2 separate regions of the Homo sapiens genome follow, and region 1 is linked to region 2. The links come from fine-mapping of genetic effects on gene expression. A gene starts in region 2. The other region holds a variant in brackets. All regions are shown on one strand. Distances are from middle to middle. Region 1 holds the start of BLVRB (biliverdin reductase B). Region 2 holds the start of SHKBP1 (SH3KBP1 binding protein 1).

The links.
Region 1: its variant is fine-mapped to the expression of SHKBP1 in subcutaneous fat (GTEx, PIP 0.99).

The regions. Positions count from the first base shown.
Region 1 is chr19:40,465,393-40,469,608 of GRCh38, reverse strand. BLVRB (biliverdin reductase B) reads left to right here and starts at 3,864. Exons shown (of 5, transcript NM_000713.3): 1 at 3,864-3,999. The coding sequence starts at 3,921. It overlaps SPTBN4 (spectrin beta, non-erythrocytic 4), which reads right to left and starts at 2,608. Exons shown (of 36, transcript NM_020971.3): 1 at 2,304-2,608. RefSeq lists a silencer at 3,450-3,649. The variant G/A (reference allele first, on the strand shown) is at 1,946.
Region 2 is chr19:40,575,008-40,579,512 of GRCh38, reverse strand. SHKBP1 (SH3KBP1 binding protein 1) reads right to left here and starts at 2,640. Exons shown (of 18, transcript NM_138392.4): 1 at 2,528-2,640; 2 at 2,229-2,282; 3 at 2,072-2,117; 4 at 1,883-1,956; 5 at 1,301-1,359; 6 at 971-1,051. The coding sequence starts at 2,613. It overlaps SPTBN4 (spectrin beta, non-erythrocytic 4), which reads right to left. Exons shown (of 36, transcript NM_020971.3): 36 at 3,049-4,102. The coding sequence ends at 3,944. RefSeq lists silencers at 2,542-2,611, 2,632-2,811, 3,162-3,251.

The DNA of each region.
Region 1 (4,216 bases), 110 kb after region 2:
TATCTCCTTTACCTTCTGGGCCCCCAGGCCTGATTCTAAGACTAACGGCTGGGCGTGGTGGCTCACACCTGTAATCCTAGCACTTTGGGAGTCTGAGGCGGGTGGATCACGAGGTCAGGAGTTCAAGACCAGCCTGGCCAACATGGTGAAACCCCATCTCTACTAAAAACACAAAAATTAGGTGGGCAAGGTTGCAGGTGCCTGTAATCCCAGCTACTCAGGAGGCTGAGGCAGGAGAATTGCTTGAAACCGGGAGGCGAAGGTTGTAGTGAGCCGAGATTGTGCCACTAAACTCTAGCCTGGGCGACAGAGTAAGACTCCTTCTCAAAAGAAAAAGGAAAAAAAAAAGACTAACAAAGGAGGAAGTTGGGAGATCAATGTCCTCAAAAGACCCAGACAATTGCCAACCCACTGAATTCTAGGAAGGCAGGGTCTAAGTCTTGGTCAGTAGAGTGAGTAGAGTGGAAATTGTCCCTTAGGGGGACACATTGAAATCTTTTTTTTTTTTCTGAGACAAGGTATTGCTCTATCACCCAGGCTAGAGTGCAGTGACACAATCATAGCTCCCTGTAGCCTCCAACTCTTGTGCTCACGCGATCCTCCCACCTCAGCCTCCTGAGTAGATGGGACTAGAGGCAAGCTCCACCATGACCAGGTAATTTTTGTATTTTTTGTAGAGAGGGGGTCTCACTATGTTGCTCAGGCTGGTCTCAAACATCTGGGCTCAAGCTATTTGCCCACTTCAACTTCCCAAAGTGCTGGGGTTACACATGTGAGCCACTGTGCCCAGTCCCAAATCCATTTTTGTTCTTCCCTCCTTCCATGGAAAAGTGAAAGTGAGCACACAGCTACCTACCACCTGTGTGACCTTGGCTGAAATACTTCCACTCTTTGGGCCTTAGTTTGTTCATCTGCAAAATAGTAATGATGGCCCGGCACGGTGGCTCATGCTTATAATCTCAGCACTTTGGGAGGTCAAGGTAGGTGGATCACTTGAGGCCAGGAATTCGAGACCGGCCTGGCCAACATGGCAAAACCCGGTCTTTACTAAAAAAAATACAAAAATTAGCCAGGCGTGGTGGCACGTGTCTGTAGTCCCAGTTACTTGGGAGGCTGAGGCAGGAGAATCGCTTGAACCTGGGGGATGGAGGTTGCAGTGAGCTGAGATTGACTCACTGCACTCCAGCCTGAATGACAGAATGAAACTCTGTCACACACACACAAAAGGGTAGGCCAGGCGGTGGCTCACGCCTATAATCCCAGCACTTTGAGAGGCCAAGGAGGTGGGTGGGTCACCTGAGGTCAAGAGTTGGAGACCAGCCTTACCAACATAGTGAAACCCCATGTCTACTAAAAATTCAAAATTAGCCAGGCATGGTAGCTCATGCCCGTAATCCCAGCTACTTGGGAGGCTGAGGCAGGAGAACTGCTTGAAGTCGGGAGGCAGAGGTTGCAGTGAGCCAAGATCGCGCCATTACACTCCAACTTGGGTGACAAGAGTGAAACTCCGTCTCAAAAAAAAAAAAAAGTAATGATAATCGTACCCGTTTCTTAGCGGTGTTTGAAGAGGTAAGTTATTAATGCAGGGATCATGGTATCTGGTACACTGCAAGCCCTTGATACATGTTCCTTGCTATTATTCTTCATCTTTTCCTCACACATCTCAGCAAATCGATTTGCCTCTTCTGGAGTCAGACAGAAATGAGTTCAAGTTCCGCTTTATTCTTGCTGTATCTTTAACCGAGTATCTTTAACTTGGCCTTTCTGTGCCTCAGTTTCCCTCCCTGTTAAACGGTGGTTACAGCTGTTTTCTTCAGTGGAAGACACTTAGAGATGGGGAGGCCCTTAGCACTCCTGTTAGCCCTCTGGCCAGGCCGAGGATCAGCTCTGGCCATAACGCGATTGAATGGGAAGGAAGGGAGCAGGTAATAGGGAAGCCGGGAAG[G/A]GGTGTCCTGCGAGCCTCCCCCCAACACCCCCCCCCCCCCGCAAAGGCTGGTGGGGCGCTGGGCTGCGGTGGCATCAGAGGCTTTAACCCTTCCCAGGCCGCGCCTCTCTCCCTGCGGTCCAGACACTGCGCCCAAGGAGGGGGCCTGGGAAGGACAAGGCCTGGGGGTAAGACCCACGCGTGGCGCGGAAGCTAGACCGGGTGGGGGGGTTGTGGGCTCGTCCTGCCCTCGACCCTTTGCCTCCCTCCAGCCGGGGAGACCCGGGGCTCCAGCCATGCCCCGTGCGCGCGGAGGAGGGATGCTCGCCAGGTGGGGACATACTTGGGGGAGGGGCTGTCGGCCCCCCTAGCAGCTCACCTGGGCCCGCGGCCGCCAGCGTCGCTGTCTCCGCTGCTCGCCGCGACCGACCGCCCTCCCTGTCGGCGTCCGCTGCCCGGCCCGGCCCGGCCCGGCCCAGCCCGGCTCAGCTCGGCCCCGCCGGCCCGCGGCTCAGCCAGATCCGCATGCGCCGCCGCGCCTCCCTCTCTCGCGCCGCCGCCGCGCTCAGCGCGCCCCCGGGACCCCCTCCCGCCCGCGGTCCCCGCGCCCCGCCGCCCGAGGCCCACGCGCAGTCACACCCGGCCGCGGCGTGGGGTGCACGGCTGCACTCGCGAGGGCACGGCGGCGTCACGCGCTGCACACTCCCACGGGGTCACGCTCGCCACGCTGCCATACTCGCGGGGGCCTCGGCGCACAAACTCACCCCCGCATCCACGCGCTTGCGCGCCGTCACTCCCTCCTGTGGGGTCTCACGGGGTCACACCCTCACGCCGTCACACGCGGCGTCCACACTGGAACGGTGTCACCCACCACCACACAAATCCAATAGGGTAACCACCGCCCACGCGGCGTCACACACAAATGCACCTGTCACACACAGCCGCACACTCCCCGGCAGTCACAAACAGTGTCATAGGCCCACACATCACGCACAGCTTCACAGCCACAGTGTCACACACTCTACACACTCGAACCTTCATAGCAGTCGCCCCGCACATGCTGCACCGCCGCACCTCACACATCATAGTCACAGGGGGTCACAATGAGCAGCTCAACACAGACACCCACAGCCACACACTCGAATGGGGTCCCGGTGTCACACATCCTTACACGAGACATGTGGTGTCACACACTGTCACAGTCTAATTAGTCTCACGCTTCCATGTAGCACACCTCACACGTCCCACACCCTATCGTACAGGCTGACGCAGTGTCACCCACGGTGTCACCACAAGGTCACAAAAGAACAGAATCAATGCCTGCCACACGTGGTGTCACGCACGTGTAGTCACACTGTAACACGGGATCACACTCAGAGGATGACACAAGGTGTCACCCACAGTCCTGCTTGCCCTCCGGGTCACTGAGTCACACAGGGTCATATAAGTGCATAGGTACGCCGTGACACAGTGTCTTACATCCAAGTGCACACACACACTCTGTCCTCCTAACTTTCTCCCCTTGCTGGTTCTGGGAGGCCCTGGGGCTTAGAGTGCGCCCCAGATCCGCTCCAGGCTCCGGGAGAGGGGGCGTGAGCTACGAGAGGCCGTGGGTGAGGCTCGCCTGGCCCCGCCCCTCTCCGGGAGGTGGAGCGCGGAGGCAGGGCGCTGAGTGACAAGTTATCTCGGCTCCGTCCACTCTATTTGTTGCTATGTGGAGGCGTGGCCTTCTGTGGCCCCGCCTTCCAGTCTAAGTGGCGCGCAGAGAGGGCGGTGCTGGACGGTGAGCGAATGCAAGCTGACGCCTGCCCCGCCCATCCGCGTTAGGCCCCGCCCCTTGACCTGAGCCGCGGGCGGAGAGTCTGAGGCGTGGCCCTTCGAGCCAGCTCCGCCCCGTTGTTCCTGGCTTGAGTAGGGCAGAGAGCACCGCCCAGCAGCCAGTGGGTTCCCGCGCGTGCCGAGACTCTGAGGCCTTGCACCCCCACGATCCCGTACGATGGCCGTCAAGAAGATCGCGATCTTCGGCGCCACTGGCCAGACCGGGCTCACCACCCTGGCGCAGGCGGTGCAAGCAGGCATGAGCCGGGGCGGGCGGGGCATGTCACGGGACAGACGGGCAGAACTTTAGGAAGGGGCACCATGGGGTCGGGCCGAGGCTGATTGGGGCCATGAGCGCCCCAGCCAGGTGTATGAGGACTCAGGGGCCAAAGCAAGTGGCCACGGGGGCAGAAATGGGGAAAGATGTGAGATCCAAGTTTATGTGAGTCCAAGCCAGAGAGGAATTGGCCCCGG
Region 2 (4,505 bases):
TTTTTTTATTTTTAGTAGAGATGAGGTCTTGCTGTGTCACCTGGGCTGGTCTCAAACTCCAGGTCTCAAGTAATCCACCTGTCTCGGCCTCCAAACTGCTAGGATTACAGGTGTGAGCCACTGCTACAGGCCAGAGTTTAATAACACTGCTATGTTTGGGTTTTATTTTCATGTTTACTTTGTATTTATAATATAAAGCTTGCATTTAAAATGATTATTATTTTTTTAATTAGCCGGGCATGGTGGCGAGTGCTTGTAGTCTCAGCTACTCAGTGGCAGAGCTGAGGTGGAAGGATGGCTTGAATCTGAGAGGCAGAGGTTGCAGTGAGCCAAGATCGCACCACTGCACTCCAGCCTGGGTGACAAAGCCAGACCCTGTCTCATAAAATTAAATAAATAAATAAATAAATAAATGATTGTTTTTCGGAAAACAGGATAAAACTAAGTTGGAAAAGTACTACTACAGATCTTTATATCTGGCAACTTTCATGAAGGTAGCAGGTGCTGACTGCAGTTAGGGAAATAAAGCTGTAGATGAAATTTCCCTACTCTGTTACTTCTACCAATCAGAAAAGCCTAGTTCCAATAACCACTGGGGCATACCTTCCATGGCCAGTGGGCTGGCTATCATGGGCATTACTGTCAATAACTTCCTATTAATATTTCTCCCCTCCATACGAAGAATCCCAGGTCTTCCAAAGCCCCCCCTACAAAGAAACCAAACCCGGACTACAACTCCCATGGGGCTCCAGGACATCCTTCTGAGCCTCAAGAGTTAGCTGGCCCATTGTCTCATGGGAAATGCTGTGTCCAACTTCCTTTCCAAGCATCAGCCCAAGCATCTGATAGGGAACTACACCTCCCACTGTATCTCAGGACGCACAGCACAGGCACCCGAGAGCTGCAGCCTTATGGGAAATGTAGTCTTTGGCCCACCTCCGCGCCCCTCCATTCCATTGGGAGTGCCTACCTGGTGGCGGCAGGTAACCATTGAAGAGGACGTTTCCACAAGAAGATCGATCCAACTCCTCTCGAAGCTGCAGGCGACGAACTGCAACAGGAGGACTTAAAGGCTGGGACTTAGGGAGATGCTGAGGCCACCCCATTTCCCCCTCCCCATTTCTTTCTACACAGAGTACCAATACTCCTCCCAGTACGAATACAGACCCGGCCAGGGCCATAACCAGTCCTCCCACCTCTACCCCAGCCCTCTTTCAGGAGAGAAGGGGAAGAGGGGCAGGTAGCATCACAGAGTTGGTTTTCTATACAATGAGGATGATAGCTGGGGGCTCCCACTTACCCAGAGGAGTGAGCCCATAGAACTGGGCTTCATGGAGGAGGCTGGAACCGTGGACACCCCTGGGTAGTAGAATTGACTAGAGGTCAGGGTCTAGGTGTGGGGGTGAACAGAGAATGCTGAGAGGGTAATTTTCAAAACTGCACAGAGAATGTCAAGGGGTAGAAAGTTTTGATGGAATAAAGATGCTAAGGAGTGATGATATGGGTGGAGGAAATGTTGAGTGTGTGTGTGTGTGTGTGTGTGTGTGTGTGTGTGTGTGTGTGTAGGGAGAAATCGAAGGACATAAAATTTTAACATGATCAAGATTCTCATGAAGTTTTGCCTGTTTGCTTTTTTAGAGAAGGGGTCTCGCTATGTTGCCCAGGCTAGTCTCCAAATCCTGGGCTCAAGTGATCCTCCCACCTCGGCCTCCCAAAGTGTTGGGATTACAGGCGTGAGCAATCCCGGCGCGCCCGGCCTGTGATCAAGGTTCTGAATGAGAATTCTAATAGAATGGAGCTCACGTGGACATTCAGAGGAGGTGAAAGAACTCCTCAGGGACTGAAGACAGTGAGGGACTCCCTCCCCTTTTTCCATGCCAACCTGGGATCCAACTCTTTGGTGCGCAGGAAGTTGAGGATGGGGGCGAAGACTGTAGGGTCCCTGTCGATGAAGATCTGCGGGAAAGGGGGGCAGAGGATGGATGGGGTAAAAGGCAGGACTGAGTGGGGTCCTGCCCCTCTTCCTACCAACCCCTCCCCCCCATCCCATTTCAGTTCTTGTCCGACTCACTGCTCCGGTCTCATCTTTCAGCGTCGAGATGCGTCCGCTCAGAAGACTGCAGGGAAGGGACACCGAGCAGGCGTCACGGGCCGGGGGAGTGGATATTAGGTCTCCCACGCCCTCTCCATCCCTCCTACCCTCGCCCCAAACTCGCTCTCCCGATCACCTGGAGAAGAAGGAGTCTGGGATCCAGGTGAGAGTCTGGCGAGAGGTACTGAATCTGGGCGGGGAAGGTAAACGGACGCAAGAGATGAAGAGGAGCGGGTGAGGAATGCGTCCCCCTCCCGCAGGATCCAGGGTTCCCTCCCCTTCCCCCTCCCCCGGCGTTTTTCCAGAATCTCGCGCCTCCAAAGGGGGGGGGGGCGGAGCAACCCTTGATGGACAGGGATTCCCCCAGGAGAGGCGGATACTCCCACCCCGCTTCCCGCCCCCGAGGATGGGACCTCAGGAGTCTCCCACACTCACCTCTTGCCTCCCACATTCAGATGAATGACTTCCCCGGGAGGCCCCCGACTGGGGACCCCCTCGGCTGCAGTAGCCGCTGCTGCCATGGCCCCCGGGCGAGCCGGCTGGCCCGCACCCACTTCCGGGTGTGCACCCGGACCCCGCCTCCATAGGCTGCTCATTGGGCCAGAGACTCCAGGAGTCACTAGCGATTGGACAGAGCGCCTGCCCATCGCGGTTAACTTTTCCGCCTCCTTAAAGGGGTCCGCCTTTCCTGAACTTGACGGGGCGGACCCGGAGTCTCCTTTGGGGAAGTTTATTACGAAGCATAACGAAATATTCTCCATCCCTCTAGGTTCTCGTCAAGGGGCGTGTGTTTAGACCCCGAAATTAAGTCCACATAAAAGGGTACATCTGGATGTTCTCCGCAGCCACGGTACCCCCGTGCCCCTCTCCCCACCCCGCACCCACCCCTACAGCCACCACAGCCCTCCTTTCAATCCTCCCGGGCGCAGCCCAGAAAACCCAAACAAAGGACCATAGACCGTCAAAGCCAAAGGGTTTATTATAGGTACATACAGTGTGCGCCCGCCACACCGCCCCACACCCCCGGGCCCCAGCGGCTTCTCCAGGCGGCCATGGGGACTGCCCACAACCCAATCCCCCGACTCCCCAGGGAGGTGCTCCAGCCAGAAGCATGCAGGGGTGGGCTTCCCCTCGCCCCTCCCCTCATGAAGTGGCATTTACAACTGGAGGGGGGAGGAGAGAGGAAAACAGTTTTGAGCTTTGACGCCCCTCCCATTAAAAGCCTTCGCGGATGCGGGGCGGGGGAGGAGGAGATCGACGTTTTGCAAAAATAAACTAAGTCAGGAATTAACCGCATGGCTCTGAGGCGGCGGAGTGCAGGGGGCTAGGGCCCCTTCACTCCCCCCTCCCAGACAGAGATCAAGGCAGCATTGGAAGTGAGGTAAAGGCGGGGAGGGGGTGTCCCCTCCCTGCCCCCTAGCACCCTGGATGGTCCAGGGGACCTCACCAGCGCCCCCGTGCCCATCCCTAGGGCAGAGAGGGGGGCAGGAATTACTGCCCCCACCACCCCAGCTTCTTGGGGCAGGATCTGCAGATCGGGGCTGGGGGCTTGGCTCAACTGGCCCCCTGCCCACCCCCATCAAGCTCAGTTATTGCATAAAAATAAGGGACCCCCAGCACCTGGGGTGGGGGTGGTGAGTGGGAAGGGGCCGAGATATGGCTATAGGGGCAGCAATCTCCCCACCACTTCTTGGGGTGCAGGAGAAGTCCCCTCCTTTCCGGTGCCCACCATGTCACGCGTCCTCAGTGTTGGAACTAGGGGCTCCCGCCCCTGCGGAAGAAAAAGTGTCTTTGTGCCCACAGTGCGGAAAAGAGGGGAGACGAGATGTGTCAGGTCCTGGGGGTGGGAAGTCACTTCCTGCGCCCGCTGGCCCTGCGATCTCCGCCTTCCCTCTTAGGGTTGCCCTCATCTGTGGATGAAGTAGTGGGTAGTGTCTGGCCCCAGCGGGCGATCTCTGCGTGTTCCGCCACCGAGGAAGCTACAGCCTCCAGCCAGCCGTTCATCTCCTCCTGGGGGAAGAAACAGGGCACAGAGGCCGTATTTGGAAGAGAGAAGCTGGAATAATAGGTGAATTTCAGATCAGACTACCCTCTCTGAAATTCAGTTTTCTCATCTATTAAAAAGGGATGATGATGATGATGCAGTTACATAGCAATATGTGCCAGGCTCTGTTCCAAACACTTTAGTGGATTAATTCCCTTAAACCTATGCAATAGGATTGTATATACTTCCTACTACAGAGATAAATGACACAAACAATGATAATAATATGGGCAGGCACTACTAGAGCACTGATATTTACTAGGCCCTGTGCTAAGTATCAGTTTATCATGTATCAATTAAACATGGAGCAATTTAATTCTCACAGTAACCCTATGATAAGAGACTTTTTTTTTTTTTTTTTTGAGACAG